3 linked regions of the Homo sapiens genome follow. The protein of the gene in region 1 purifies or fractionates together with the protein of each later gene. This does not show direct contact. Each region holds a gene or a part of one and is shown in the gene's direction. Other genes may lie near its edges. The genes, in order: CHURC1, ARPC1A and MTMR14.

Evidence for each region.
Region 2: the proteins of CHURC1 (region 1) and ARPC1A purify together in Homo sapiens (affinity purification with mass spectrometry, with the first as the bait; one large-scale study listed by BioGRID). This does not show direct contact.
Region 3: the proteins of CHURC1 (region 1) and MTMR14 purify together in Homo sapiens (affinity purification with mass spectrometry; one large-scale study listed by BioGRID and IntAct). This does not show direct contact.

The regions. Positions count from the first base shown.
Region 1 is NC_000014.9:64,920,925-64,924,573, forward strand, and holds part of CHURC1 (protein Churchill), read left to right. Parts: intron 1-3,066; coding exon 3,067-3,202; intron 3,203-3,649. Other genes in the region: CHURC1-FNTB protein, read left to right, coding at 3,067-3,202. UniProt on the Homo sapiens protein: Transcriptional activator that mediates FGF signaling during neural development. Plays a role in the regulation of cell movement.
Region 2 is NC_000007.14:99,324,554-99,328,782, forward strand, and holds the start of ARPC1A (actin-related protein 2/3 complex subunit 1A), read left to right. Parts: upstream 1-1,344; 5' UTR 1,345-1,451; intron 1,452-4,229. UniProt on the Homo sapiens protein: Probably functions as a component of the Arp2/3 complex which is involved in regulation of actin polymerization and together with an activating nucleation-promoting factor (NPF) mediates the formation of branched actin networks.
Region 3 is NC_000003.12:9,666,361-9,670,009, forward strand, and holds part of MTMR14 (phosphatidylinositol-3,5-bisphosphate 3-phosphatase MTMR14), read left to right. Parts: intron 1-2,358; coding exon 2,359-2,434; intron 2,435-3,071; coding exon 3,072-3,132; intron 3,133-3,649. UniProt on the Homo sapiens protein: Lipid phosphatase that specifically dephosphorylates the D-3 position of phosphatidylinositol 3-phosphate and phosphatidylinositol 3,5-bisphosphate, generating phosphatidylinositol and phosphatidylinositol 5-phosphate.

The DNA.
Region 1 (3,649 bases):
ATTATAGGACATAAACTACCTGATTTAAAGACTAACTATAAAAACTATAGTAATCAAGAGAGTTTGATATTAGTGGGAAGGTAGATATATGTATCAAGGGAACAGAATAGTCAAAGCAGACCCACATATATATGGTCATTGACTTTTTTCTACAAAAGCACCATTGTAATTCAGTGGGGGGAAAGACAGTTCTTCAACAAATCTTGCCAAAACAACTGGAAATCCATACGCAACTAAATAAACCTTGATCCTTACCTCATATATAAAATTATTTCAAAATGGATTATAAACCTAAATCTACAAACTAAAAGCTATAAAACTTCTAGAAAAAAATGTAAGAAACTTTGTGCAACCCTGGGGTAGGCAGAGATGTCTTAGGAGAAAAAAAGTATAAATTATAAAAGAAAAAATGTTAAATTGGACTTTATGAAAATCAAAACTTGTTTGCTCATTAGAAGAAACCATCAAAAAAGGCAAATCAATGACGGAGAAAATATATTTGGGAAAAAACTTGTATCTAAGATATATAAAGAACTCTTACAACTCAAAATAAACAACCTAACTTTTTGAAAATGGGCAAAAGACTTGAATGGACATTTCATAAAAGAAGATACATGAATAAGCACCATGAAAAGATGCTCAACATCATTAGTCATCAAGGAAACAAAAGTTAAAACTACAATGAGATACCACTTTACGTCACTGAATGGCAAAAATAAAAAGCAGTACCTAGTATTGATGTAGCTATAGAGCAACTGGAACTCACACATTGCTGGCAGGAATGTAAATTGGAAAACCATTTGGCAGTTTCTTGTAAAGTTAAATATACCATATTTTTACCATATTAGCAATTCCACTTCTACATATTTACCCAAGGGAAAGGAAGACATGTATCCATCCAAGACTTGCACATGAATCTCTATAGCTGCTTTATTCATAATAGCCCCAAATGGAAACAACCCAAATATCTACCAACAGCTGAATCCTACAGGGAATACTATTTGGCAATGAAAAGCAACAAACTACCAGTACCTAGAACAACAGTGATGATGAACATAGGCATTATATCGAGCAAGGAAAATTGGATGCGGGAGTATACTGATTCTGTTTATATAAAATTCTAGAACGTGCAAGACTGGAGATGGAAATCAGATCAGTGGGTGTCTGGGGTGGGATGGAGGTTAGAGATAGACTGAAAAGCATGAAGGAACTTTTTGGGGTGGATAGAAATGTTTTATACCTTCACTAGGGTAGTGGTTACATGGGTATATACATTGGTTAAAAGTCATTCACCTATGTATACCCTTACAGTGTGTGAATTTTATTGTATGTAAATTGTACCTCAGTAGATTTTATTAAAAAAAAAATCAAAGGCTGGGCACAGTGGCTCATTCCTGTAATCCCAGCACTTTGGGAGGCCGAGACGGGCAGATCACGAGGTCAGGAGATCGAGACCATCCTGGCTAGCATAGTGAAACCCCATCTCTACTAAAAATACGAAAAATTAGCAGGGCGTGGTGGCGGGCACCTGTAGTCCCAGCTACTTGGGAAGCTGAAGCAGGAGAATGGCATGAACCTGGGAGGTGGAGCTTGCAGTGAGCCGAGAGTGTGCCACTGCACTTCAGCCTGGGTGACAGAGCGAGACTCCGTCTCAAAAAAAAAAAAAAAAAAAAAAAATCAAAGCAAAGCATTTGTTCTTAATAACTGGAAATGTATACTTTAATCCTAAGGCCCTTTTCCCTTTTAGTAGTTAAGGCAGTACACCTATGATTTAATAACTATGTAGTAATGTCTTGATTTCTCCCACTAGAATTAATGTCTTCCTCAATACATAGAAGGGAGAGATTCCTCAATATATAGAAGGGAGAGATTAATTCTCCCACCAGAATTAATCTCTTCCTCAATACATAGAAGGGAGAGATTAATTCTGGTGCTTGGAATCCAGAAAGACTTCCTAGTGGCATTATTTATGGTGGATCTTAATTTCGCTGATGCTTCTTAAAACTCCTTGAAGGTAGCAACATGTTTGGCTCATCTTTGAATCCTCTGTTGTGCTTTGCACAATATCAGACACAGATGCACTGGAGAAACGTTGATTTGAGTGATTTTTAATCACATTATTTAAAAATACTCTTTAAGTGTGTTGCTGAGAAATGGGATTGGACTAGATTATTTATAAAGTGACTTTTAATTATTAATTATTAGCCTTTAGCAAAGACTTCCTTTGGGTCGGGGACGGTGGCTCACAACTGTAATCCCAATACTTGGGAGGCTGAGGTGGGAAGATCATTTGAGCCCAGGAGTTTGAGACCAGCCTGGGCAACATAGCAAGACCCCATCTCAATTACCAAAAAAAAAAAAAAGGCTTCCTTTGAGCCAGGAGCATAAGTTATTTAGAATTTCTTTTTTAAAAACTTTTTTTGAAAATTTGTATAGTTTCTTAGTAAAGATGTAAAACCCATTCTCTCTTAAATGCCATTGTGTCAGTCTTACGAAATGAAGAACTTAAGCTTCTCTGCCTCAATCATGTGTATCCTTAAGGACTGACATCTATAGAGCTGAGAGTTTACTTTTGTTTATTTTGTATTATGATCAAGGATCAAAACTATTTGAACAAACAACTAAACATCTATGTAAGATCATCTTTATCATTGACTCAGTTTCTATTTTGATTGAATTTAATTTTAGTTGGTAAGCCTCGTTTAATATTGTTGGTTATTAAATTTTTCTAATTTTCTATTTTCATATTTTATATTAAGGTTTCCTTAAGTTGTTTCTAAATATCTATTTTCAGTTTATCCTCCCTTTTCAACATAGTGGCAGTCCTTACAGACTTAAGGATCTAACACTGCACTTTAGTTGCTTTTTTTTTTTTTTTTTTTTTAACATGAGTAACACTTCTTTAGGAAAGCTAGTAATTTCAAAAATTATTTGGTATATGACCTAGAAGTAAATGCTGGCCATTTTTTAGTTTTGTTTTGCCTTTAGACATTTTAAGTCTGTTAATCATCTTCACTAAAGATTTTGAAATGTAAAGAAATTAAATTCCTGTTTCTGATATTTTAGGGTAATACCTGCCTGGAGAATGGATCTTTCTTACTGAACTTTACAGGCTGTGCAGTGTGCAGTAAGCGGGATTTTATGCTGATCACAAACAAATCCTTGAAAGAAGAAGATGGAGAAGAAATAGTTACCTATGATCGTAAGTAGACTTTATTTTTTAACCTGAGTGTGTTAGCAGGTGTCAGCTTTTGGAAGTCGATATGTTACACAAAATATTCTGAGGCCTATTTCAATATTGTATTGCGCACATAATTACTAGTTAGGTCTTTAAGAGGAAAATGTCATTAACACCTCATTTATCTGGGATATCAAATAGTCTATGTAAATGACTTTTGCAGATAACTAAAGCTTACGATTCAGGAACTGAATTTTTTTTGTTTATCAAATTATTTTTCACGGACATATTTTTAAAAGCTTTATGCTGCCTTAACAAGATATACTTTTTATTATTGTTATTATTGTGACCTTAGGGTCATCCATGTGAGTTTTCACTTTTCTGCTACAGTATAATACCATGATATCCTCCAACAGCTATTAAAGTGTTTAGGGCTGCTTGTCCCTATACTAAATGACTTCAGGAATGCAG
Region 2 (4,229 bases), on another chromosome or scaffold:
AACCCGGGAGGCGGAGGTTACAGTGAGCCGAGATCGCGCCACTGCACTCCAGCTTGGGCGACAGAGAAAGGCTCCGTCTCAAAAAGATCACAGCGGGTCTGAAATTGAGAGTTTGACAAGTATACCTACATAAACCTCACCTTACAATACCAAAGGGAAGGAGACAAGCCCTTGGTTGGCCTGGCATGGCGCTGGGCGGCGGCGGGGGGGAGCTCACATCGCTTTGGGAAGCAGAGGCTAGAGGATTGCTTGAGCCCAGGGGTTCAAGACCAGCCTGGACAACATAGGAAAACCTCATCTTTACAAAAAATATAAAAATTAGCCAGGCACAGTGGCTCACACCTGTAATCTGAGGGCTTTGAGAGGCCAAAGAGGGACGATCGCTTGAGCCCAGGAGTTCAAGACCAGCCTAAGCAACACAGCAAGACCCTGTCTCTACCAAAAAATAAAAATTAGCCAGGCGTGGTGGTGTGCACTTGTAGTCCCAGCTCCACGGGGGGCTGAGGCGGGAGGATCGCTTGAGCCCAGGGGTTCCAGGCTGCAGTTAGCTATGATCGCGCCACTGCACTCCAGCCTGGGCTACAGGTTGAGAACCTGTCTAAAAAAAAAGAAAAAAGAAAAGCTCTCGATTAGCCCCATCTGTGGGGGCTGGGGATGCTCCAGAATTTCTAGGGTTCAAGGGCAGCAGCCTGATTGCAGGTGGGGATCAGGGCATTTCTTGGAGGCTGCATCTGCGGGGCAGGCTCTGTCCTCTGTGAATTGGGGGCCTTGCCAAGTTCCCCCAACCCTTTTATCCCTGCTGCGCCATCTTGGGAGCAGGGAACTGCTTGGGAGCAGGGGATTCTGTCCCAGGAAGGGTCGAGAAAGTTCCTGGGGGGCTTCAGGGGCTTTCCACAGAGGGAGCACGGCGGGGGCGGAGGCTCCCTGCAGGGAGCAGCGCTGAGGTAGACTGGCTCTGACCTTGGCTCTCTGAAGGGAGAAAAACTTAATCGTTCTTCAGGTCCAAGAGCTCCAAAGACCCCCAATCCTCAGTAACTCATCTCCTGACAAAAGACCTTGCGAAACTGCCAAAGCGCCACACTTCGGCTCGCGATTGTGAGGAAATTGGTTGAGGAACGGAGTGGGACGCCCATGCCGCTTCGCCAGCACTTGCCAGGCGTTCCGTGGGGCAGCATCTCCTCTGAAGGGCCGCCGACAGTACCACGCCAATGGAACGGCGTACCCTCCTCCACTGCAGCCTGCCTAACCCCGGACTGCGCGCCCGAGCTGTGCGCATGCGCGGACCGTCCGCGCGGTCGCAACGCGCAGGCGCCGTGTCCACTTCCGGGATCTGTCAGCCGCTCCCTCTGGGCTTCCGTCCTCCGCCCGCGCCCGACGGAGCCTGTTCGCGTCGACTGCCCAGAGTCCGCGAATCCTCCGCTCCGAGCCCGTCCGGACTCCCCCGATCCCAGGTAACGGCCAGCAGGGGCGAGCGTCTCACCCTGTCGGCCTCTCTTGTCCAGGCCTGGCGCCGGACTTGCCGCGGGGGCAGTGAGACGGGGGCTCAGGCCGCGGGGCCCCGAGGCTGAGGCGCGGCCGGGTCTCCCTGCCGGGGCCTCCTGAGGGGGCGGGGATCCCCTTTCTCCGTGGATCCCCTGCAGCTTTTCTCAGGATGTTCGAGCTCCTAGCCGCCTCCGATGCCCGAATTAACGGCCCCTTCTGCGCCCCCAGGGTCCTACTTGCACCTCTGCTGGGGGCATTTGTCACCGTCTCTAAAATTGTGTCAAGTAGGAGGATCTCCCGTAATCGAGCGACCCGCGGGACTATTCATCTCTTTAGTGTCTAGAGTCGATCCCTGCATACAGTAGGCGCCCATAGGATGTTTGCCTGCTCTCTAGGGCAGCCCTCAATCCTTCGGTTAATGGGGAACCTTCTCGATCTCGAGAAAAACCTTCTCCCGAGTTCTTTTAAGATTTCCCTGCATGAGTACCGCCTTCCCCCAAGTCAAAATTGCACCCTTCTCGGCGCTCTTATTCATTTAGTGGAATCTTTTATGCCAGTCCTGGCACCACCACTTTGTTGAGTGATCCTGGGAAGATGCTTCTCTGCGCCTGTTTCCTCATCTGCAATAAAAAGATTCTTACCGTTTTGCTAAGAATCAAGTGAGCTTATTTGCATAAATTGCTTAGAATAGTTCCTGGCCGAGAGTAGGTGATCAATAAATATTAGCTATTATTACTGCTTCTGGGCATTCTATGCATATCCGTCTTCCTTTCCTTTTCTATCTCCTCCACTCTCCCCAAACACCAACCCTCCAGACTTGAAGACCAGAATGGTGTCAGCCTTATTTATGTTTCTAGCCCCATCCCGGTATTTACAACACTGCTGGGAACATGATAGGCACTTAATCAGTTATAGCTTAGAATCTTTGATTATAAAGCCATCTGTTCTCCTGCAGCTTTGGAACCTTCTGTCTATGTCAACTCGTAGCTTAAATTGCCGAGATTATCTTAGTTCTGCCCTCTCTCCTCAATTTTATCTAGTCTTGTGGTTTCACATAGGGCCTGGGTTTTCAGGTATCTAAAAACAGAGGAGGGGCATCAGTCAGGAAGGTGTTTTTGTCCTGTTAGGGAGTGGGTAACTGTGGTTGTTGTCTTCCTTTTTTTTTTTTTTCCTGCAGCCTCGACCTCCTGGGCTTAACAGATCCTCCCACCTCAGCCTCCTGAGTAGCTGGGACTACAGGCGTGTGCCACCACACTGGGCTAATTTTCATTTATTTTTATTTACTTATTTTTGGAGATAGAGTCTCACTCTGTCACCCAGACTGGAGTGCAGTGGTGTGATCTTGGCTCACTGCAACCTCCACCTCCTGGGTTCAAGCGATTCTCCTGCCTCAGCCTCCCGAGTAGCTGTGACTACAGGCATGAGCCACTGCGCCTGGCTAATTTTTTTTTTTTTTTTGTATTTTTTGTAAAGACAGGGTCTCCATATGTGGCCCAAGCTGGTCTGGAGCTCCTAAGCTCAAGCTATCCTCCCACCTCGACCTCCCAAAGTGCTGGGATTTTGGGTGTGAGACACCACACCCAGCTTATATGGCTATTTTCTCCCACAAAGTATTCAGAGATCTTCTGGAGTTCATCTGTTAATCACAGTTAAAGGAAGGGACCATTTCGGAAAACTCCTATTTTGGACGCGGAGTGGTGATACTTTGATCTAGTTGTCTCATCCAATGCTGAAACAAATCCTATATAAAGAAGTTTAAAATGGTCTGCTGGTGAGGCTGGTGCCTGGACTGGAGCCTGTCTGAATGTTGAGGAGGGTGTGGTGACCTTGTTGGAGTACTTGATGTTGCTAGATTGGCTAATGAGAGTGATTAGGAACTAGGTGAATCACGGTCTTGAAAACTGACCCTAAACAGGGGACAGAAATGCCCACTTTTGTGGGCATTTTCAAGCTCCAAAGGAGTAGGGCCAAGAATTTATAGCATATGTCAACGTTTCCAAGCTCAGAGGAAACTAACTGGTGGGTTCTATGGTTGGTTTAAAAGCCTTGAGTTGGCCAGGTGCAGTGGCTCACGCCTGTAATCCCAACACTTTGAGAGGCTGAGGCGGGTGGATCACCAAGGTCAGGAGTTTGAGACCAGCCTGACCAACATGGAGAAACCCCGTCTCTACTAAAAATACAAAATTAGCCAGGCATGGTGGCACGTGCCTGTAATCCCAGCTACTCAGGAGGCTGAGGCTGGAGAATCGCTTGAACCCGGGAGACGGAGGTTGCGGTGAGCTGAGATCACACCATTTCACTCCAGCCTAGGCAACAAGAGCAAAACTCCATTTAAAAAATAGAAAAGCCTTGGGTCAAAGGGAGAAAGGGAACCTGCTGGCATGTATTTCAGGCTAGGCTCTGTACTACTTGCTTTCACATGTCTCATTTAATTCTCCTTGTGATCTCAGTGGTATATCCACTTTACAGAAGAAAAAAATGAGATTTAGAGATATCAAGTGACTTGCCCAGGGTTTCATAGCTAGTGTGTGTCAAAAGCCAGGGTTCAAACCCAGCCTCGGCTTCAGAGCCCATGGCTAGCCATACATCAGAATGACTCTGTACTCAGTGATAGATAAAGAAAAGGGGTGGGGGCCGGGCATGGTGGCTCATGCTTGCAATCTTAACACTTTGGGAGGCTGAAGTGGGCAGATCACTTGAGCCCAGGAGTTTGAGACCAGCCTGGACAACATAGGGAGACCCCTGTC
Region 3 (3,649 bases), on another chromosome or scaffold:
GGCTTCAAGTGATCTGCCCACTCTGGCCTCCCAAAGTGCTGGGATTACAGGCGTGAGCCACCACACCTGGCCAATGCCCAAAGTTTCACATCCTACTTAAGATATGCTTTAAGTGTAAAATACACATCAAATTTTGAAGATTTAATAGAAAAAATGTAAAATATTCATTTTAAAAGTGATTACATGTTGACATAATGTCTTGGATATGATGGGTTAAGTAAAGTATATTAAATAATTTTTCAAAACTCAGTTCAAGCATTGAACAGTAAGTTCTCATACCATTTTCTCCCCAAACACTTGAGTCTGGCTTTTAGACCATTGAAACTGGAACAATTCATCTTTCTTTTTGTTTAAGAGGTGGGGAGCAGAGGTCAGAGGTTACTAAATTAGAAAATTATACAGAGTGCTTTTCCACGGACCGTATTAGAGGCCATTCCTAACTAGGTAAATGGAGAGCATTCAGGGTAGATCTTGCGTTTTCAGTCAGGAGCCAGCTTAAAGGGCAGAGATGATGGGTTATGAGTCAGAACCATGAGGCAAAGGAACAGGTGTCTATCAAGAGGGGTCAGCCCTCCCACAGGGGCCTTCCTGAAGAGGCTGGTTCCCCACTTGGGGACTTGGCCAACTTGTTTTTCTCCATCTGACTCGGGTTTTGCTGGCCTAGGTCTGGCTGCCTCAATTACTAAAAAGACAAGGTCAATAGAAGGGATGTGGAAGAATAATTGGGAACAGAAAAAGGGTCTCAGAACTCAACAGCCAAAAAGAAGGCAGCTATCTGCTCTGAAAGATTTAACAGAAATAATGCAAAGGAGAGTGAGGTCAGCTGCCAGCAGCTTAGATGAAGCGGGGAGAGTGGATATGATACAAATGCCAGTGGAACAGGCAGCCACACACCCTGCCAACGTCTTGGAGTCTTAGAGGTCCTCAGCCCTTTCCTGTGGAAGCATCCACTTTACTCCTCACTGCTTGACTGACTTCTTAAAGCAAGGGCTTTTAACGGGGTCTGGGAATGGGTTCATCAGTGGACTTGAGAGAGTCCAGAAATCCCTGGAAATGTAAGTAGATTATGATGTGTACATATTTTTTTTTTCAGGAGATAGTTCATACTTTTTTATCAGATTTTCAAATTGCTTTTAGACCCACAGAAAGTTAAGTGGCCCCCACTGGAGTACATCCTACTTAAGCCAGCAGGAATGCCAGCCCTTGGTAGGCTTCCTCAGTAGGCTTCCAGGACAGCCTCTCCACAAACCAGCTCTTGCCCCAGCACCAATAATGCCCCTCATTCTGTCCCAGGTTATATCCAGGTAGCTTTTCTATTGCTGTCCCCACGTCCCCACCCCTTGTCTGCTGCTACCTCAGATAGAGCCAGAAAGTGACCTAGTCGTTCCCACGCACAACTCTTTGCTGTAGCAGCAAAACTTTCCTTCCCATTATCTTACAGGTAGAGATGGAGAAGCCTTCAGATGGTACTTGGCAATCTTCCAGGGATCCACTTTCCATTTGCACATTGTGTTACCCATTCAGCAGTGAGCTTCACTCCCTGTCTGTCACCTCACAACTTCGCCATTTCCCATTGTAGTGTAACAGGGTCATGTTCTCCTAGCCTTTAGCTAAATTCTGGGCTGGTTTGCCTTCCCATCACCAGGTATCTCCTCCCATTCCCCCCACCCAACTAGATTTCAGCAAACACTATTTATTTTAAACAAGTAACCTTACAATTAGATATTGAGGTTTGTGCCAGTTGCCCGTTTCTAGAATTCTCTTAACAGTGATCCCTTCAGTGATGAGGAAAAGAAGCCTCTAAAACATTTCTCACTCACCCCTTGCCCCCGCTAGAAAGGTTGTTCCTGTCTACACTGAACAGTTCCAAATCACAGTAAGCACATAGAGGTCAGTGGGTTTGGATCAAATCCCAGCTCACCCCTCATTATATGACCTTACACATCACTTAACCTCCCTTAGCCTGTTTTTCTTTTCTTCATCTGTGTAACAGCAACAATGCATGCCACCTGCCACATATCCCTCATGGGCTTGTTGTAAAATTCAGTGAGAAGATGATGGGTTTTTCAGTACCATGTCCAGCACGTGGTACACATGCAACAACCACCCAATCTGATCCGATCCTGTTGGTAACACTGGCGCCTCTTGTTTGGGAGTGAGACTCCCTCAGTAGAGGTTGTGGATTAAGTACTAGGGATCTTCTGACTGATTGTGGCAGCCTTGATGCTGATAAAACTTTGGGGAGTGCTCCTGGGCCCGTTATGCTGGCCTGGAAGAGTCAGAGGAGTCCCACATGTTCCTTCAACTGTGCATGCTTCAGAAAACCATCTGACCGTGAAAATGATGTTTCTCTCCCAGCACATTTGCAGGTCGGCCACACTGGCTGGATGGGGAGAGCTGTATGGACGCTCAGGCTACAACTATTTTTTCTCAGGTGAATGTTGAACAGCATCCTCTGATGTAGAATGAGAACCCAGTCATAGAGAATAGCTACCCGGGCCGGGCGCCATGCCTCACGCCTGTAATCTCAACACTTTGGGAGGCCAAGGCGAGCGGATCCCGAGGTCAGGAGTTCGAGACCATCCTGGCTAACACGGTGAAACCCCATCTCTACTAAAAAATACCAAAAATTTGCCGGGTGTGGTGATGCACACCTGTAGTCCCAGCTACTCAGGAGGCTGAGGCAGGAGAATCGCTTGAACCCGGGAGATGGAGGTTGCAGTGAGCCGAGATCACGCCACTGCACTCCAGCCTGGGCAACAGAGTGAGACTCCGTCTCAAAAAAAAAAAAAAAAGAATAGCCACCCATGACCACAATAGTATAGGTAGGGGGTCTGAGTGAGCTGGGTGGAGATCAGGGGCCTTCCTTTGATCAGGGACCAGGAGACAAACAGGAGTTCACCTTAGAGGTGAAGACTACCAGGCATATGGGGGCATACTGTGTCCTTAGGAGTAGAGCCATGTAGTCCCAGCCCACCCTTGGCACTATGGGGAAGGAGGCTGGTGAGGAGGCCCCTGTGTGGAGCCCTGGGTCACCAGCCTCAGTACTGACAGATAGGTTTCTCTGGCAGGGGGTGCAGATGATGCCTGGGCAGATGTGGAGGACGTCACGGAGGAGGACTGTGCTCTTCGGTCAGTGCTGGGTTGCTGTGGTCAGGGGCTTGTGTTGGGGATGGGGTGTCTGGCCAGAGATGGCCATGTTCATATTGTCCGTGGGTATTTGTCACTGGTTCAGGTGAGTGGATTGGCTTCTTCCTCTTCTGTCTGCCAAGTCTGTGCCCCTGAAATATGGCTGTTGAAGTCCACTGGGTAGCAGCCAAATACCTGAGCAGTCTGTCCCCATCTTGACTGCACACCTGGATTCACAGAGAACATCCCACTCTTGGGGTTCCTGGTACTGCAGGCCCGAGATAGGGCCCAGACATCTATATTTGTTTTAAAGCCCCACAGAGTTGCCAGTTTGCAGCTATGATGCTGATTACCAACCTGCCAGATCTCACCCAGTACAGCTGGTACTGAGGCACAGGGCAAGGGCTACAGTCCATACATAGGAGACATGAGGTCTAGCCTGGAAGGCACATTTGGAGACCAGATGTGTCACAGCTGCATGATTGGTACTACACATAAGAAGAGCTTGGTACAGAACAGG